2 linked regions of the Homo sapiens genome follow. The protein of the gene in region 1 purifies or fractionates together with the protein of each later gene. This does not show direct contact. Each region holds a gene or a part of one and is shown on either strand. Other genes may lie near its edges.

What was found.
Region 2: the proteins of ERAP1 (region 1) and TMEM87A purify together in Homo sapiens (affinity purification with mass spectrometry; 2 studies listed by BioGRID and IntAct, with this or other methods). This does not show direct contact.

Annotation. Positions count from the first base shown.
Region 1 is NC_000005.10:96,804,540-96,813,708, forward strand, and holds the start of ERAP1 (endoplasmic reticulum aminopeptidase 1 isoform b precursor), read right to left. Parts: upstream 3,407-9,169; 5' UTR 3,321-3,406; exon of another isoform or gene 2,919-3,320; intron 1-2,918. UniProt on the Homo sapiens protein: Aminopeptidase that plays a central role in peptide trimming, a step required for the generation of most HLA class I-binding peptides.
Region 2 is NC_000015.10:42,235,057-42,243,324, forward strand, and holds part of TMEM87A (transmembrane protein 87A isoform 1 precursor), read right to left. Parts: intron 4,676-8,268; coding exon 4,614-4,675; intron 2,560-4,613; coding exon 2,376-2,559; intron 1,364-2,375; coding exon 1,264-1,363; intron 1-1,263. UniProt on the Homo sapiens protein: Potential monoatomic ion channel gated by mechanical force, implicated in normal touch sensitivity through the generation of mechanically activated currents.

The sequences.
Region 1 (9,169 bases):
CCAAAAGTTAATTACCTATTTATTTAGCCAGGAAGAGCTTAAAGAGCTTAATTTTCCCAGTAGTTTGTGGCAAACGTATCAATCACCTGGATTGATTTTAAAGACATAAAAGCAATGTGAATTTCAGGCCAGGCATGGTGGCTCACGCCTGTAATCCCAGCACTTTGGGAGGATGAGGTGGGCAGATCACAAGGTCAACAGATTGAGACCATCCTGGCCAACATGGCGAAATCCCGTCTCTACTAAAAATACAAAAATTAGCTGGGTGTGGTGGTGCGCACCTGTAGTCCTAATTACTTGGGAGGCTGAGGCAGGAGAATCGCTTGAACCTGGGAGGCAGAGTTGCAGTGAGCTGAGATTGCACCACTGCACTCCAGCCTGGCAACAGAGCAAGACTCTGTCTTTAAAAAAAAAAAAAAAAGGCAATGTGAATTTTAAGGAAGTTGGCAAACCATGCCCCAAGCATCAAACATAAGTTTTTATTTCTTTTATACAAACGCACCTTTCTAATGGGTGTTTGCCAAGAGGGGCCCATACCAGGTGAATGCAAGTGATTGGCCCAAACTCCTCGTGTTCCAGTTGGGAAAAGTAGCAAGCTTACAATGTGGATCCCTCAAAGTGTTCACAGTACATGGAATTCTCCCTCTCTGAGATGTCAAGTTTCCTAACTCTGGCTGCATATTAATGTAACCTGGGAAGCTTTTAAAATTTTCGATGCCTGGGTCCTTATTGACAACAATTAAACTGGAACCTATGGTGATAAGATCGGGGTATGGTTTTACGGATTGTTTAATTTCTGGTTTTTGGTTTTTTTTTTTAAAAAAAAAAAAAACTGTCCAGAGATTTTACTGAGAAGCCAAGGTTGAAAAGCTCATCCTTGCCAAATCCTGGCTTTCCCCCTTCAACTCTATGTGATAGGATACTAATTCAAGGCAATGGCTGAAGTGCCTTCCCTAACCCCTGACTTCCTTGCTCCCTTCCCAAATGCACAGCTCAAGGGAATTCCCTTCTCCTCACCTCTGGAGCAATCTGGAGGCTAAACAGAAAGGATACCTACACATTAGAGAGAGTCTTGGAAATCTCATAATCCCAGTTCAAAAGGCACCACCCAGGTGAGACAGGAAGTGTGAACAGGGAGAACATTTTTTTGCCCTTGAAGTTGGGGAACTAGAGAGTAAATGGAACTTGTGTTTTGCTTTCCATATGGAATTACTGGCAGCAACAGCTTAATGAGCATCGCCCCTGCCCCAAGACGGGATCCAGAGGACTCTGTGAAGGTGGCAGGTTCAAGCATGTAAGGACTCTGAAAGTCCCCGAGACCTCTCCAACAGCCCCAGAGAAGATCTAGAAATTCCAACTCGTTATGAGCTGACAGAAAGGCTGATGTGCTGCGGAAGGGGTTGGTACCGGGACCTTGGATCAGAGGCTTTGCAGGGTTGGGTCCATGAGGGGTCCAAAGAGAAACAGTTATGTCTCAACGAGGATGCAGTGCATGAGTGGGGCTTGGTAAAAACTCCATGTAGTGAATAAAGGGCTTCACTAATAAATTCTCTTATTAATCCCAAACTGTAGGCTACATCCAAGATTCTGTGATCATGTTCGTGTGTTTGGCTCTTCCCCTGAAAAATTAGCTCTTGTTTGGCTTTGCTTCCAATAGTAAGTGTTCCAGTTTGAAACATGGCATTTCATGGTTCTGGCTGGTCTCCTAGGGTCTGGTTTTACTAACAATTTTCTGAAAGGGAGGCAGTTAAAAAAAAAGAAAGCTCTCAAAAACAGTAGTCTACTCAATATAAGCAGCTCTTCCCAAGAGAAGTACAATTCTCTTTGAAGTTACACTCCACTAACACTTAAAGGAATAGAAGCCAAGGAGGAAAAAGAACTAATATTTACTAAGCTCCTCCAAAGTGCCAGGCACTTTACACATGCTCACTCTCTCTAATAGCCTATTATTCTCATTCAAGGTGGGGTAACTGAAGCAAAGAACCATTCATGTAACTTTGCTAAGTTCACACAACTTGTTGGAATGCAATCCACATCTGTGTGAGTATAAACTCCCTGCTTTTTCAGCTTCACCAAGATCCCTCTTTTTTTTTTTTTTTTTTTTTTTTGAGACGGAGTCTCGCTCTGTCTCCCAGGCTGGAGTGCAGTGGTGCGATCTTGGCTCACTGCAACCTCTGCCTCCCTTCCTTTTATTGGGGCACTATAGTATATGAAATAGATCATCAAGAAGTAATTGAGGTTCTTCCAGAATTTCCTGAACAATGAAATTAACAAGCACTGTTGGTAAATAATAAAAATGCTGGATTAATTTGAAAAAAAAAAAAGTACTAGAATGTTTCTATTCAGGCCGCACCTGAAAATGTGCTACTTATACTAATTAAAAATCCTCAGGCAAGAGACAACTGTGCCCAATTTTCAAGTTTTTTGTTTTGTTTTGTTTTGTTTTGTTGTTTTGTTAATTGTTGACCACGTCCTGAGTTCAGAGCGAATCCTCTGGGTGTTTAATAGGAAACAGATAATTTCTTTCTGAACCTAGCCTACACAAAGAAATCCAAAAGCGTGAGGAAGTGTGTGCTCTCCCCCTTCCCCTCATGGAATTAACTTTGTAGGACCACCTGGCCAGTGAGGCACCCAGATAGGAAACTTTTAATTTGCGTCAACAGAGGTGCTTTATCTGAATAAAACCCAGCCAGAGCCAGAGCGAAGGGGAGAGAGAGAATTGCTGACCAGAAGAACAGGAGAAGCAGGGAGGGAAGTGACCTTAAGAACACACACGGCCCGCGCATCCCACCCCACCAGAGTCTTTAACCCAAAGCCTCTGGGTTTCTCTAGCAGCTATGGGCAGGTGCCCTCCTCAGCCCGAGCCAGCTGCCCGCCCCACCCCGCCTTTTGGCCTCGCGCGGGCGTCGGTGGCCTGCAGGACTGGCAGGCATCCAGGCGCCAGGCGGAGCGCTGAGGGAGGCTCCCGCCGGCCGAACAGCGGGGAGACCCGTGAAGCAGGCGCACCGGCCACGCGCCCGGAGGGACAGGGACAGGGACCGGCAGGGGTGGGCCCGCCGCCAACCCGCCGGGCACCCCGCGGACTCGGGCCTAGCCAGCGACTCCCCCCGCCCTTCCCGCGCCCTGTCTCGCGCCCCGTCGCCTTCCTCCCGCGCCCCGTCGCCTTCCTCCCGCGCCCCGTCTCCCTCCTCCCGTGCCCCGTCTCCCTCCTCCCGTGCCCCAGGCCCTCAGCCCCCCACTTGACGGGCGCAGGGAAGGGGCGGGTGCCGCGCTCTCCTCCCGGCCCGCAGTCCCCTACCCGCGGCTCGAGCGCGCTGTACCTGGGGTTCTGGGGCCGCCCTCACCCTTGCGCCGCCGCCACCACCACTGCCGCCGGCCTAGCTCCCCCAGGACCGAAAGTGAAAGTGGAGCCCGGGGAGCGGCAGGCTGGCGCTGAGCGGCGCTTCGGCCCGAGCCCTAGCGGCAGGCGGGGAAGCCCCTGGCTAAGGCGGGAGCTGGGGAAAGGGTAAACGGGAGTGGGGCCGAGCGAGGGAAGCCGCAACTCCCAGGAAGGGAATTGGTAAATGAGCGCTGCACGCCGGGGAAGCTGCGAGGTTGCGATGCGGGGGATCAGGCGTAGGAAGTGCACGCCTTTCTGAACGCGGATCCGTGTGTGTGTGTGTGTGTGTGTGTGTGTGTGTGTGTGTGTGTGTGTGTGTGTGTGTGTGTGTGTGTGTGTGTGTTGAGATGCTTTTTGTTTTTGTCTTTTTTTTTTTTTCACTGTTTAGCGTTGCGAGGGTTAGGGGCATGCAGGAAAGGGCCGGTGCTCAAGTTGGGGACCGAAGCCAGGCAGGCGCTGACAAGTCCACCAAGCCTAGACGCGTTCGACGCCCATTGGACTCGCTGGGTGTCCGTCATCTCGCCACTGCCAGTGGGCTGAGAGCTCTTGGCCCGCCTCGGAAAGAAACATGAACCCAGTACTCTGTCGTGGCAAAGTGCCGCACCTTCTGGGGCTTCGGTAGAGAATGACTACAGTGGGAGATGCTGTAGAGGAGGAAGGTGGGTTAGAGGTGGCCCCCAGGACTTTCCTGCACTACCAAGGGCCACTGTACCCCAAGGATTAGCTGCTTCCCGCATCAACACGTTCCCTCTGATTTTTCAAAGTAAATGACCATTTCTTCACTCCCCTTAGAACAATTAAAGCTGAATAAAATGGCCAAAAAGACCATCTTTAAACAGTTGAGGCTAAATGAGGTAACAAGTCAAGAAAACACAAACATTAAAACACCAAATGCTACAAGTTTATTACCGAAAATGGGTCCCGATCCAGACCCCAAGAGAGGGTTCTTGGATTTTGCGCAAGAAAGAATTTGAGGGGAGTCCATGGAGTAAAGTGAAAGCAAGTAATTAAGAAACTAAAGGAATAAAAGAATGGCTACTCATAGGCAGAGCACCCCCAAGGGCTGTTGGTTGTCCATTTTTAGGGTTATTTCTTGATTATATGCTAAGCGGGGGAAATTATTCATGCCTCCCCTTTTTAGACCATATAGGGTAGCTTCCCGACGTTGCAGTGGCATTTGTAAACTGTCATGGAGCTGGTGAGACCGTAGCAGTGACGACCAGAGGACACTCTCATTGCCATCCTGGTTTTGGTGGGTTTTGGCCAGCTTCCTTACTGCAACCTGTTTTATCAGCAAGGTCTTTATGACCTGTGTCTTGTGCCTACCTTCTATCTCATTCTGTGACTTAGAATGTCTAACCTCCTGGGAGTGTAGCCCAGTAGGTCTCAGCCTTATTTTACCCAGCTCCTATTCAAGATGGAGTTGCTCTGGTTCAAACGTCTCTGATAATTTGGTGAGTGGACCATGGTCCTAGTGGGAACAGGACCCTTTTCATGCGGTTCTCAGACTTTCTTCTCCCACTTCTTTATTGGCCTTCTTCCCTTTGAGAACTGGGGATTCCAAGTCACTGCAACAGTATTTCTCTTTTTTTTTCAATATTATGTTTCCTTTTTAAAAATATAATGTTTCATACTGCCTATTATCTCTAGTCAAGGACATTTTATAATATAAAGATTAACACCCTGTTCCAAGACTCAACTACGGTGGGATCCAGGGAAGTTTTTTTCACTAAAATTCAACAAGAAATGAGGACTTTGAGATCTGGTAATTTCTGCATGTTCAGAATTTGACAGGAGGTATCAATGGATAGCGTGTAGCCTCCAAGACCTCCAGACATCTCGGAGTGCTCCCAGTTTACTCAAGATGAGACCTCTTTGTCCAGTAAATGTATGCATTTCTTTGCTTTTATATTTATATTTTTGAATATGATGGTTTTCCTTTGGCTTCTAGTAAAGTTTTTTTGTTTTTGTTTTTGTTTTTTGTTTATGTGTCTTTTTAAATACATATTGAAAGTCCAGCTGGCAGAACTGAATGCACCCAACAGGCTGGAGGTTAATACAGAAGACAGCTGAGGAGACAAACAGGGCAATGCCCTGAATGGATGTGGGCAGAAAGGAGCTGAAGTGTAGGCGAGGAGAGAGCTGACACCACCACCCGCTCCACGCCGTTTCCCCAAAAGCTCACCCTGACTCAGACTTTAGCCTGTCGCCCTGGCCGTGATTTCGTCTTTAGAGTTGAAGTGCACTACAAAGAGCGATAAGTCAGAGGATTTGGCAGCATTCACTTCTAGTTTCAAAGCCCTAGCAGGGATGTAGAGGACACAGACCTTGGAGTAAGGACTTTAAGGAGTCCTAGTTCTAGAGCCTGTGAGATCAAAACAGCACATTACCGAGCTTAGAAATGGTTAGAAGGAAGGGAACAGAGAGAAAGGGTACCTAGGTTTATTGATTCCCTACCAACTGTTAGATACTGTTAAATGCTAGCTATGTGTGCATGTGTGTGTTTATAATTTGATCTCTTCAGCAACCCTGTAATGTAGATATTATGCTTTATAGATGAGAAAAATGAGACAGGTCGGCAACTTGCTCAGAGTCAAAGAGAAAACACACACTAATTCTACTCACATTGCATTGGCCAGAACAAGGAGGGGTTGGTAAACACTAATATTGTATACCATATAGTGTAGGAGGGCTGGTTGGCCGGTTGAGCCCATCCATTGCAGAGGCTTCTCAGTGTCCTTAGTCCCAGAGGTGAGCCAGAGGAATGAGGAGAATTTCAGGCCTAGGCCAATGAAATACATACCACTTTGAGCTATTACTGATCTACTTAAAAAATATTGAATTCTAGATATTGTCAAGTGATGTTCAATTTTGCTGTAATTGATTGATTCAGTTCTGCTTTCATTAGCTTTTAGTCAATTAATGTCAGCGTTTGGCTCATTTCTTCTGTTTTGCTGCCAAAGCTGCTCCTATTTTAATCATATTACCACTCTCCTTTTTGATGTAAAATCTCATCCAGAATCATGGTGTAGAAAACAGACAAAAGCAGGCCTGCTCTTATTAAACAGGGCAGCTCCACCCAGTCAGCCTTGCCCACTGCTATCCGGCCCTTCCACACACATTGTGGTCCTTGAGACTCTTCCATAGGCTCCCAGGGCCTTAGAACTTAATTTTTTTAAATGCCAATTTAAAAAAAAATAATAATGCCCCTCATTCTTGATATTCTTGATAAAGAGGATGACTTTTTTCCCCCTCTGTGCCAAGTTGCAGAGCAGGCTTGCTTAACAAAAGCAATACCATCTTATTAATAATCAGAAACAGGGAAGACGGTACAGATGCCATGTTAAAGACTGTTCCAAAACAGGCCACTGAGCTCATATCAAATAATAAAGTCCTCTGAAATGTGGCAGCTTGAAAGCATTTACATATAGTCTATCTCATGGGATCCTCACATTGTACTTATGCAGGTGGCTAGTAGCTCCATTTTTCTAGAATGAGGAAACAGGATTAGAGATGTGAAGTGACCTACCAGGGGCCACCACATGGAAAAAGCCTGCTTTAAAGTGAAGCCAGTTCAAAGGACAGCAGGGCTGACAGAGACAGAGAATACCTCCACTAAAGCCCTCAGCTCCAGCTGTCCTGAGCAAATCCTGTCCTTAGACCTTCCATTCAAGAGGACCAATGCTTTCCTTTTTGATTTAGCCAGTTGGAGTCAGTCTTCAGAGAGAGTCCTGTATTACCATACAACAGAGCACTATGGGAGCGAGCAATGTATGCCAGATTCTGTAGGAACAACTCAAGCAAGTTGAGTGACCACAGCTGCCCTTGAACTTCTAGAATTGTGGATCCTGAAGAACATTCTAGGTGCCACGAGGACTGATCACATGTTTCCCATTTTCCCTCCCTCAGGCATTTATTTCACAAGATACTGCTGTCTAAGGTAACCTGAGCATGTTTCCAGTTCTTGCAGCCTTACAGAACCCAGGGAATCCACCTGTCTCCAACCTTCCTCAGTAGGTGACAGGCCCATCTAACTGCTCTCTAGCCAGTCTTCTGTATTCCTGTTGCTTTTACCTTTGCTCGTGTCAACAAGGAGGTAAGTCACCATGACATATTTCTTAAATTTGTATTTCTTTCATCACTAATGAGACTGAATATATGCACTGAACATATGTTAATTAGCCGTTTTTGCTTTGTGTTTTCTCTTTTGAGAATTATATGTTTATGTTTCTTGTCCATTTATCTACTGGAGAATCACAATTCAGTTATATAAAAATTATCTATGACACACAAGAGAAAGCAATGAAATTTCTTTAAAATGCAAAGTGTCATAGTCAGTAAAGCTCTACTATTTCAAAGAAAACCCACAAATGTGTCTGGATAAATCATGTCAATTTCTTAAAAACCCAGATCTATACCCGTTATGGTGAGTTGTTTGAAATATCAGAATTTACTAGATATTGTCAATATGAACAGATTAAAGCAAACCTTTGTTTAGGAGGCTTTATTTTATTTATGGCTCCCTCTGCCACAGCTATTTCACAAAGAAAGAATGAATTATCCAGCCAGGAGTGAACATGATCTTTGCATATGCCTAAAGGAATGATAAAAATATTGGGATGAAAAATATGTAGATTTGTTTATTGTTATTTTTTGAGGGACCATGGTGTTATGCTACTAACTGTCTTGCCTTAGCTATAATGAATATCTGTTGCAATAACTAAACATGGGAAAAATAACTTTTCAAAACCTTAGTTTCTAGAAGGTTAATGGATTTTATTATATTGAAATTAAATGAGCTATGATACAAAGGAGAAAAGGAAAGAAACGAATAACTTTCTCAATGAAGTTCTGTAAAGTATATACAATTGGGGCCTGAAAAGAGAAACTCATTTATGCTCATCCATACATGGCAGTGTGAAATTGACAGAGTTTGGCTTAAGTGAAGTCTGTGGTTCTAGGAATGCTTGCAATTTATTGGAAAATTAGATTGTGATTATGGAAGAAATGACTCAAGTGGTCTTCAGGCCACCACAGCCTTTCTTTTTTTTCTTTCCCAACCCTTCCTAAGAGACAGTTCTCCTTATCTCATTTAAACTTATGGGTTTGAACTAAGTGGTGGGAAGTGGAAGAAAGAGACATTATCTTACCCCTATAAACCTACAACACTCCCTTGGCTACCCTGGTGCTTAGGAATGCTGACTTTATCTGTCCTTAAGAAGCTGTCTGGACCATAGGAGGAATGCTTGGTTTTATTTACAAAGCTGTCTAAAGGATGAACAAATGAAGTGTTTAGAGGCCCTTTGAGACAAAGAAATACTAGCTATCAAATTGAAGAGAAGGGCAACAGGTTAGGCATAAACATTTTAAAATGCAAGATAATCTCTAAGCCTTTGAAAAATTTTAAGAGTAGTCTAATAGGCAGGTTTAGGGAAATAATTAAAATGACCTCTAGGCCAGGCGCGGTGGCTCACGCCTGCAATCCCAGCACTTTGGGAGGCCAAGGCAGGAAGATCATGAGGGCAGGAGATCGAGACCGTCCTGGCCAACATGGTGAAACCCTAGCTCTACTAAAATACAAAAATTTAGCCTGGCGTGGTGGTACGTGCCTGTAGTCCCAGTTACTTGGGAGGCTGAGGCAGGGGAATCCCTTGAACCCAGGAGGCGGAGGTTGCAGTGAACCAAGATTGTGCCACTGCACTCCAGCCTGGCGACACAGCAAGACTCATCTCAAAAAAAAAAAAAAAAAAAAAAAAAAAGCCTGGACTGCCTGCATAAGGCATCTTCATA
Region 2 (8,268 bases), on another chromosome or scaffold:
GAGATGGAGTCTCGTTCTGTTACCCAGGCTAGAGTGCAGTGGCATGATCTTGGCTCACTGCAATCTCCGCCTCCAGGGTTCAAGCGATTCTCTTGCCTCAGCCTTCCAAGTAGCTGGGACTACAGGTGCATGCCACCACAGCCGGCTAATTTTTTGTATTTTAGCAGACACAGGGTTTCACTGTGTTGTCCAGGCTGGTCTTGAACTCCTGACCTCAGGCAATCTGCCCGCCTTGGCCTCCCAAAGTGTGAGGATTATGGCGTAAGCCACCACGCCTGGCCTTCATGACTTTAAATAATATCTTTATCTTCATGACTCCCAAACTTTTATCTCTGCCCCAACCTCTCCCCTTTGTTTCCCCTACTTAGTTATCTAATTCAACTCCAATCTTGCCCCTGCTCCACACTTATTTCACCTAAGGTCTTCCTGAACTCAGTAAATCTTCAATTCCATCCTGCCATTTTATCAGATCAAAACAATTGGCATCATCCTTAATTCCTCTTCTCTTTCCTATCATACATCTGATCCATCAGCAAATTCCACTGGTTCCACCTTCAAAATATATATAGAATCTGATCTCAATTCAGCATCTCTTCCCTTGGGTATACATATAGCTCCCTCACCTCCTTGAAGTCTCTGCTTAAATGTCATTAAGTGAAGCCCTCCTTGATCACCCTATGTACAACTGCAAGCTCTAGCTCCTGCATTACCTGCTCCACTGCACTTTCCACTGACATATTAAAATATTTTACCCACTTAAATTTTGTCTTTGTCCCCTCCCTCCACAAATGTAAGCTCAAAATCTTCTGTTTACTTGCCATATCCCCAGGGCCTAGAACAATGCCTCAAAGAATGCCTATAGAAGACACTCCTCAATAAAAATAAAATTTTTTGGATAGAAAAATATTTTCAGACAGTTACAGCAAGAATGCGTTTCCCATAAAAAATCTAATTTGCAAAAAATATTTTGGAAGTATGGAAATATATTCGGAAGTATGGAATACATTTGGATTTGGAAGTATGGAATACATTTGGACTTGGAAGTATGGAATATATTTGGAAGTATGGAATATATTTGGAAGTATGGAAAATGAAACACATTTTCCCAACATTTACAATGCTACAAAATTTCAAATACCTTTCTTGTTTCAGAATTATTTCTTTTATCAACTATTTCAGAACTACTACATTGGGAACATGCAATACTGTTTTAATTTAATCAGCATTTTAATTTGCTCTTCCATACAGGAAGTTAATACTTACTTGACGATGCCATATCCCAGACTGACTATGATGACCAGGGTTCGAGCCAGTGAGCGTTTCACTGCTGAAAGCAGCTCTGCAAGGATCAAAGCACCCTGGACTATGAAAAAGAAGGGAAGAAATGGCACCATAATCTAGGTTTGGCAACAGGCCAGATGCCAATACTAGACTGCTGCTTTCTACACTCTTCAGAATAAGCATTGATATTAGTCCTGCTAAAATAGAATACCTCTTCCACAGTTTTTACAGGATACAAGCTGATGCCACTCACAATCTTACTCATGTCTATGTATGGCAATCTGGGTGCGCTCAACTCAGCTCCCTCCCCGACCTGGCCCCAAATTCACTAAAACTTTAACAGAATACCTCACCCTATATGGACAGTTTGTAGCATCGAGACAATTTCCCCCATTTTTAAAAACTGTGAAATACAGCTACACATAGAAAAGCACAAAACACACTCGTGTACACGCTTGTTGGCATGTACAGCTTAACTTTTTTCAGATCTACTATTTTCAAGACCTTTCAAAGACCAGGGAAAATCTTATCAGTTTATCTCACAATAATAATTATGACTAAATTAAATGGTCTGACAAGAAAAAACTGAAGCAATCACAAAAAACTACAGTATAAAACAACTTCTGTCATTACCAGTTCACCTTACTAAACCATAAGCACTCTCCTATTTTCTTGATATGACTATATTTTATCAGTTAGATGCACTTTCCCACCACATTTTGAGGTTTTTTAAATCAAGGTGTGTCTTACAATCAGTGACATTTTACAATTAAATTGACAGCTTTACTTTTTTTCTTAGATGTATAATGGTGCCTTAGAAATCAACAGAAATTGAGATTTGATGTTAATAATCATTCCCAAAATGGTCACTACTGTTGTGACTTTTGTGAGCATATTTCAGTAAAATTAGTCTTACATCACTGAACTCATAAGATTAAAAACAAAAGTCAGAGTCATAGTGATTCTGCTTAAGATATTGTAATAATTAAGTAATTGAAAAGTTAAGCCTATGTAGTGACTGCTGACCTTAGGAATATTTTCATACATCTCACCTTCCAACCACTCGAACTGGCAAAGATTTTCTGGTTACTTACCAGATTCTCCTTTGTATCGGATATTCTGAAATTCCGCATAGAAGACAGCTTTCTCAAGCATTCCCAGGAAGATGACAGCACCAATCCAAAACTGAATTCTCAGGAGATCTCTCCAGTAGCAGGCAGACCATGCCAGCCACAGAACACCAAACAGGACATATACAATACACATCACCATGAAAAACTGTTATCAAATTGGGTAAAAGATAAAAAGGAGAATTAGGGCCAAGAGCCAAGTCTGTAGATTTAGAATCAATATATACTTTTTTTTTTTTTTTAAGAGATGGGGATTTGCTATGTTGCCTAGGATGGTCTTGAACTTCTGGACTCAAGCAATCCTCCCATCTCTGCCTCCCAAAGTGTTGGGATTACAGGCATAAGCCACAGCGCCTGTCCTGAATCAATATACAGTCTTAACAAGTTACAAAAATATATTCTACCTTCTAGTTAAGAAATAATTCTTCCTTTGGAGCTTAACATTAACTAATATGAAAGCATTATCTTGTCTTGAGCAGAGAAGACTACATATGAACTTGTCCTCAAGAGCGAATGCTCTCATATGTATATATATATATGTGTGTGTGTGTGTGTGTGTGTGTGTGTGTATGTATGTATCACATATGTATACCATATAAAAGGTGCTCTCTATTATACACACAGACACATATATGGTATATATAGAGAGCACTCAGCCTGCTCTCCTATAGTAAAAGAGCTTTTTCTGGTCAGGCGTGGTAATTCACACCTGCAATAGTGCTTTGGGAAGCCGAGGCAGGAGGACTGCTTGAGGTCATGAGTTCAAGGCCAGTCTAGGCAACATAGCAAGACTCTGTCCCTACAAAAAATAAAAATTAGGCCAGGCATGGTGGCTCATGCCTGTAATACCAGCAATTTGGGAGGCAGAGATGGGCAGATTACTTGAGGTCAGGAGTTCAAGACCAGCCTGGCCAAAACATGGTGAAACCCCGTCTCTACTAAAAATACAAAAATTAGCCAGGCATGGTGGTGCGCACCTGTAGTCCCAGCTACTCAGGAGGCTGAGGCAGGAGAATCGCTTGAACCCAGGAGCTGGAGGTTGCATTGAGCCAAGATCGTGCCATTCCACTCCAGTCTGGGTGACAGAGTGAGACTACGTTTCAAGATAAAAAATAATAAAATAAAATAAAAATTAGCCAGGCATAGTGGCACACGCCTGTTGTCCTAGCTGCTTGGGAGGCTGAGGTGGAGGGTAGCTTCAGCCTGGAGTTTAAGGCTGCAGTGAGCCATTATCCATTATCATGCCACTGCACTCCAGCCTGGGAGACAGAGTGAGACTCTCTTTTTTTTTTTTTTTTTTTAAAGAAGGAGCTATTTCAGCTCACGATCTAAAATTATATAGATGAAGACAACACTGAAGAAGAAAAATGGCATGATGATTAGGATACATCTAGAGGCAAGGAAACACAACAAAACGGGAAAACTATTAAAGGGAAAGGAAGAAGAGAATAATCATGAACAAAGAAAATTGAAAATATATTAAGGATATTCTGAGACACAGACGTATGCACACATACATGTATGTGCACACATACACACATACACACACAAAATGAAGAGAAGGGAGCTTCATCATTTTGTTAATTTTTTGTTGTTGAGACAGTTTCACTCTGTCGCCCAGGCTGGAGTGCAGTGGCAAGATCTCAGCTCACAGAAGCCTCTGTCTCCTGGGTTCAAGCAATTCTGCTTTAGCCTCCCGAGTAGCTGGGACTACAGGCGCCTACCACCACGCCCAGCTAATTTTTGTATTTTTAGTAGAGATGGGGTTTCACCATGTTGGCCAGGCTGGTCTCAAACTCCTGACCTCAAGTGATCTGCCCGCCTCAGCTTCCCAAAATGTTGGGATTACAGGCATGAGCCAGGGCACCCAGCCTCATTTAGTTAATGTAAGTGGGATCAGAAACAATAGAGTTGTAGTAAAAAGTGCCCCACTATGCATCCTAGAGAGAATGTGAGATGATCTTTGAGGTATTTCCACAGGTCACTGACCCCTTCATTATATGGATAAGAAAATGAGGCACACAAGGGTATACTGACTCTCTCAAAGTCCCAGTCTAATAAGAAATAAATCCAGGACTACAAGCAACATTTTCTGAATTGCACAGGAACAATTCATTAAAAAGAATACTGCCACAAAACATGGGACAATCTTTGAACCCAAAACCATCCAATACTGAGGTTAAATAATATAAAGTCACTTACAATCATCAAGGGATAGTCTTCAAGTGTGAGGTATTCATAGGGACCCTTCACTTCAACAGTCACTGCCAAAACAGAGTCCTCAGAATTAATTTACAGGATGCAGAAATTAAACAAAAATATTGCCTAATATTTGTTTAATGAACTTAGTAAGAATTTCATTGGGTCATTTACTTTTAGGCACTTCAATCCTGGTCAATATTACATTATATTTGTACAGCACTTGGAAAGTCATTAAGTGTCCTCATAGTTCATGCTGTGTCCTGCACAGGTTTCCATGCCTCCACCATAGTCTGAAGTGGGAAGGCTCTTTTGTTTCCATACTCACATCTTAAAAAAGACTAGATTGAATATTTCCTCCACACAGCCTTCTCTGGCTGCCCATCTGGAACAACTCTACACATACTCTAAATTCTAAACATACTTCATATATACTTTTCCTTACAACACATCAGTAAAATATGCCTTACAGGACTTCCTTTTTACATATTGCCATCTTCTTTGTTTTCTATCTTTCCTCACCTGTATTTTCCTATTGCTTTACTATTTTTTCATGGACTCCAATTTTCTTTTATTGCTACATTCATGTATCATTTTCGGAATGAAGGCATTGGAAAAAAACTTAAAAATTTAAATTAACTCACACAAAAAAATATACCATCCCTCATACAAGATTGAAATCTAGCTTCACAATCAGGTACCCTAGATGCTCACTCCAAAATAAAAATAACTCAAAAGTTCAGATGCTTCAAGGCAAAGCTCCATCCAATAAACATAGAATTGAACTTCCCCAAAACCTGCTAGTTAACATTTTTCAAAGAATTTGTTAATAACAAAGTGTTTAATGAGACAGATAAAGTAACAGTAATAACATATATCTGAAAGACATATTTGCCTTAGTAAAGCAAACATTGACTAATTTTAAGATTATCTGTAATTTTAAAAACTATTTCAAGATGGACTATTTTATTATTGTATTGATAAAATAATTTGGATAAATTCTAGGCATAATTAATAAATAAAAATCTGACTTGAGTGGTGATCATCCCTAGAGACAGACTAATAACTGTTCATTCAACAATTCCCTACTAGCTTCTGATATACCATTATTTAAAGTAAACTACATCCAATACTTACATGAAAAAAAGAGCATTCCATAAGAGCAATTATAAAAATTTCAGAGCAGAACTATTATTAAATCTATACCTTCCTAATTCAATAAAAGAGTAAACAAAATAATTAGTAAATACTTGGATCATATTCTTTGCTTACTCTATGCCTTGGTCAGCAAAATATAGCACATGGGCCAAATCTGGCCACCAGCTTTTTCTGTTAATAAAGTTTTATTGGAACACAGCCACATCCACTCATTTACATATTGTCTACAGCTGCCTCTGCACCACCTCGCAGAGTTGGGTAGTTATAATAGAGAAAAAATTTACTACCTGACTCTTTAAGAAAAAAATTTGCTAGCCCCTGCTCTATGCTAAAATATACATTTACTAAGCACTTATTATTTGACAGGCCTATGGAAAACACAGCAGACAGAAACATGAGTAAGATGTTTTCTGCCATCAAATGGGTAACCACCTTGCAGGGGAGAGGGAGTTGACAAGCTACATAGAGAACTATCCCTCTCAGCCAGACTAGAAGGATAAGTAGAGAACTATCCCTCTCAGCCAGACTAGAAGGATAAGTATGTATTTTCCAGAACAAAGTAAAAAGCCTTCTAGGTAGAGGAAATAACATGAACAAAACAGCTGTGAAAATGTGTGGTATATTTAAAGAACAAATATAGTCTGAGACTGCATATAATACCATATAGTAGTGGTGTTTTGACATAAGGCAGCAAAAGGTAAACTGGGACCAGTTGTAAAGAGTTTTATAAACCTTGCTGCAAAATGTAGTCATTTTATAGGCAATGGGGAGCCATCCATTAAAGGTTTCGATGAAGGGAAGAAAAATGATAAAACTGTATTAGTGATGATGTATCTTCTCCATTCCAAAAAAAGACGGGTATTTTTAAAATGAAAAAACAAGGCCAGGTGCGGCGGCTCACACCTGTAATCCCAGCACATTGCGAGGCCAAGGCGGGCAGATTACTTGAAGTCAGGAGTTCAAGACCAGCCTGGCCAACATGGTGAAACTAAAAATACAATCTACTAAATAAAAATCTAGTAGATTTAATAATTTAGCAGATAAATAATAATTTAGTAGGTTGTAAAAACACAATGTACTAAAAATACAAAAATTAGCTAGGTGTGATGGTGCAGGCCAGCAATCCCAGCTACTTGGGAGGCTGAGGCAGCAGAATCACTTGAACCCAGGAGTCAGAGGTTGCAATGAGTCAAGATCACACCACTGCACTCCAGCCTGGGTGACAGAGTGAGACTCTATCTCAAAAAAAAAAAGAAAAAAAAAAAGAAAAAGAAAAAAACAAAAAAGGATATAAGCTCAAAAACAAGACAGACATTTCCAAGAATCAAAACAGAAACTCAAAACAGTGCACGAGGCCGACTCCATGATCATGTTGGGCTCTTGGGCCAGAAGCAGGCTATGGTAGTTGGAAGTGCTGTCCCTATGGGATCTATGGTAGTTGGAAGTACACTACCAATGTACTACGGTAGTACATGGGATCATTGAAGCTAGTAGGTTTCAAAGAAAAAGAAGAGGGACCAGAGCCAGGCTGGATGCATGAAGAAGCTGAAGTAGGGTGGAATAAAGCTTCTCTTCCAGCCTTTTCAAAGAAAGAAGGTTGAAAATGAACACTGGTAACTGTGCCTTGAGACTATAATCCATTAGAAAGTCATGGGCCTAAAAAGACAGGAGGATACACATGTATGAGTGAGGGGGAGAGGGACAGGGAGAGAGGGAGAGGGAGGGAGGGAGGAGAGGAAGAGAAAGAGAGAGAGAGACAGACAGACAGAGAGAATATGCGTGTGTGTGTCAAAACCAAGTAGTGGTATCCCAGAAGTTCAACAATGATTTAATGTTAGAAGATCAGTTAATTTAATGTATGACATTAACTTATTAAATGAGAAAGCCCATATGATCATTTAAATCAGTACAATTAAACTATTTGATAAAGCTAAGTATTCATTCTTAACATTTTTTTTAAAAAAGGAAACTATTCTCATTAAACTAGGAATAGAAAGGAACATCTTTAACCAAATGAAGAATATTTCAAAAGTTCTACAGTAAACACAGTACTTAATGGTGAAATATACCAATACAGCCAGTAAAGTCAGGAGCGAAGTAACGGTGGCTGCCATCATTGTTTCTATTCCATATTCTGCTTAAGAAAGCAGGGTAGGAAAGGGCCAGGCACGGCGGCTCACCCCTGTAATCCCAGCACTTTGGGAGGCCAAGGCAGGCGGATCACAAGGTCAGGAGATCGAAACCATCCTGGCTAACACGGTGAAACTCCGTCTCCACTAAAAAATACAAAAAAATTAGCTGGGTGTGGTGGCGGGCGCCTGTAGTCCCAGCTACTTCGGAGACTGAGGCAGGAGAATGGCGTGAACCCAGGAGGCGGAGCTTGCAGTGAGCCGAGATTACGCCACTGCACTCTAGCCTGGGCGACAGAGTGAGATTCCATCTCAAAAATAAATAAATAAATAAATAAATAAATAAATAAATAAATAAATAAAAAAAAAGA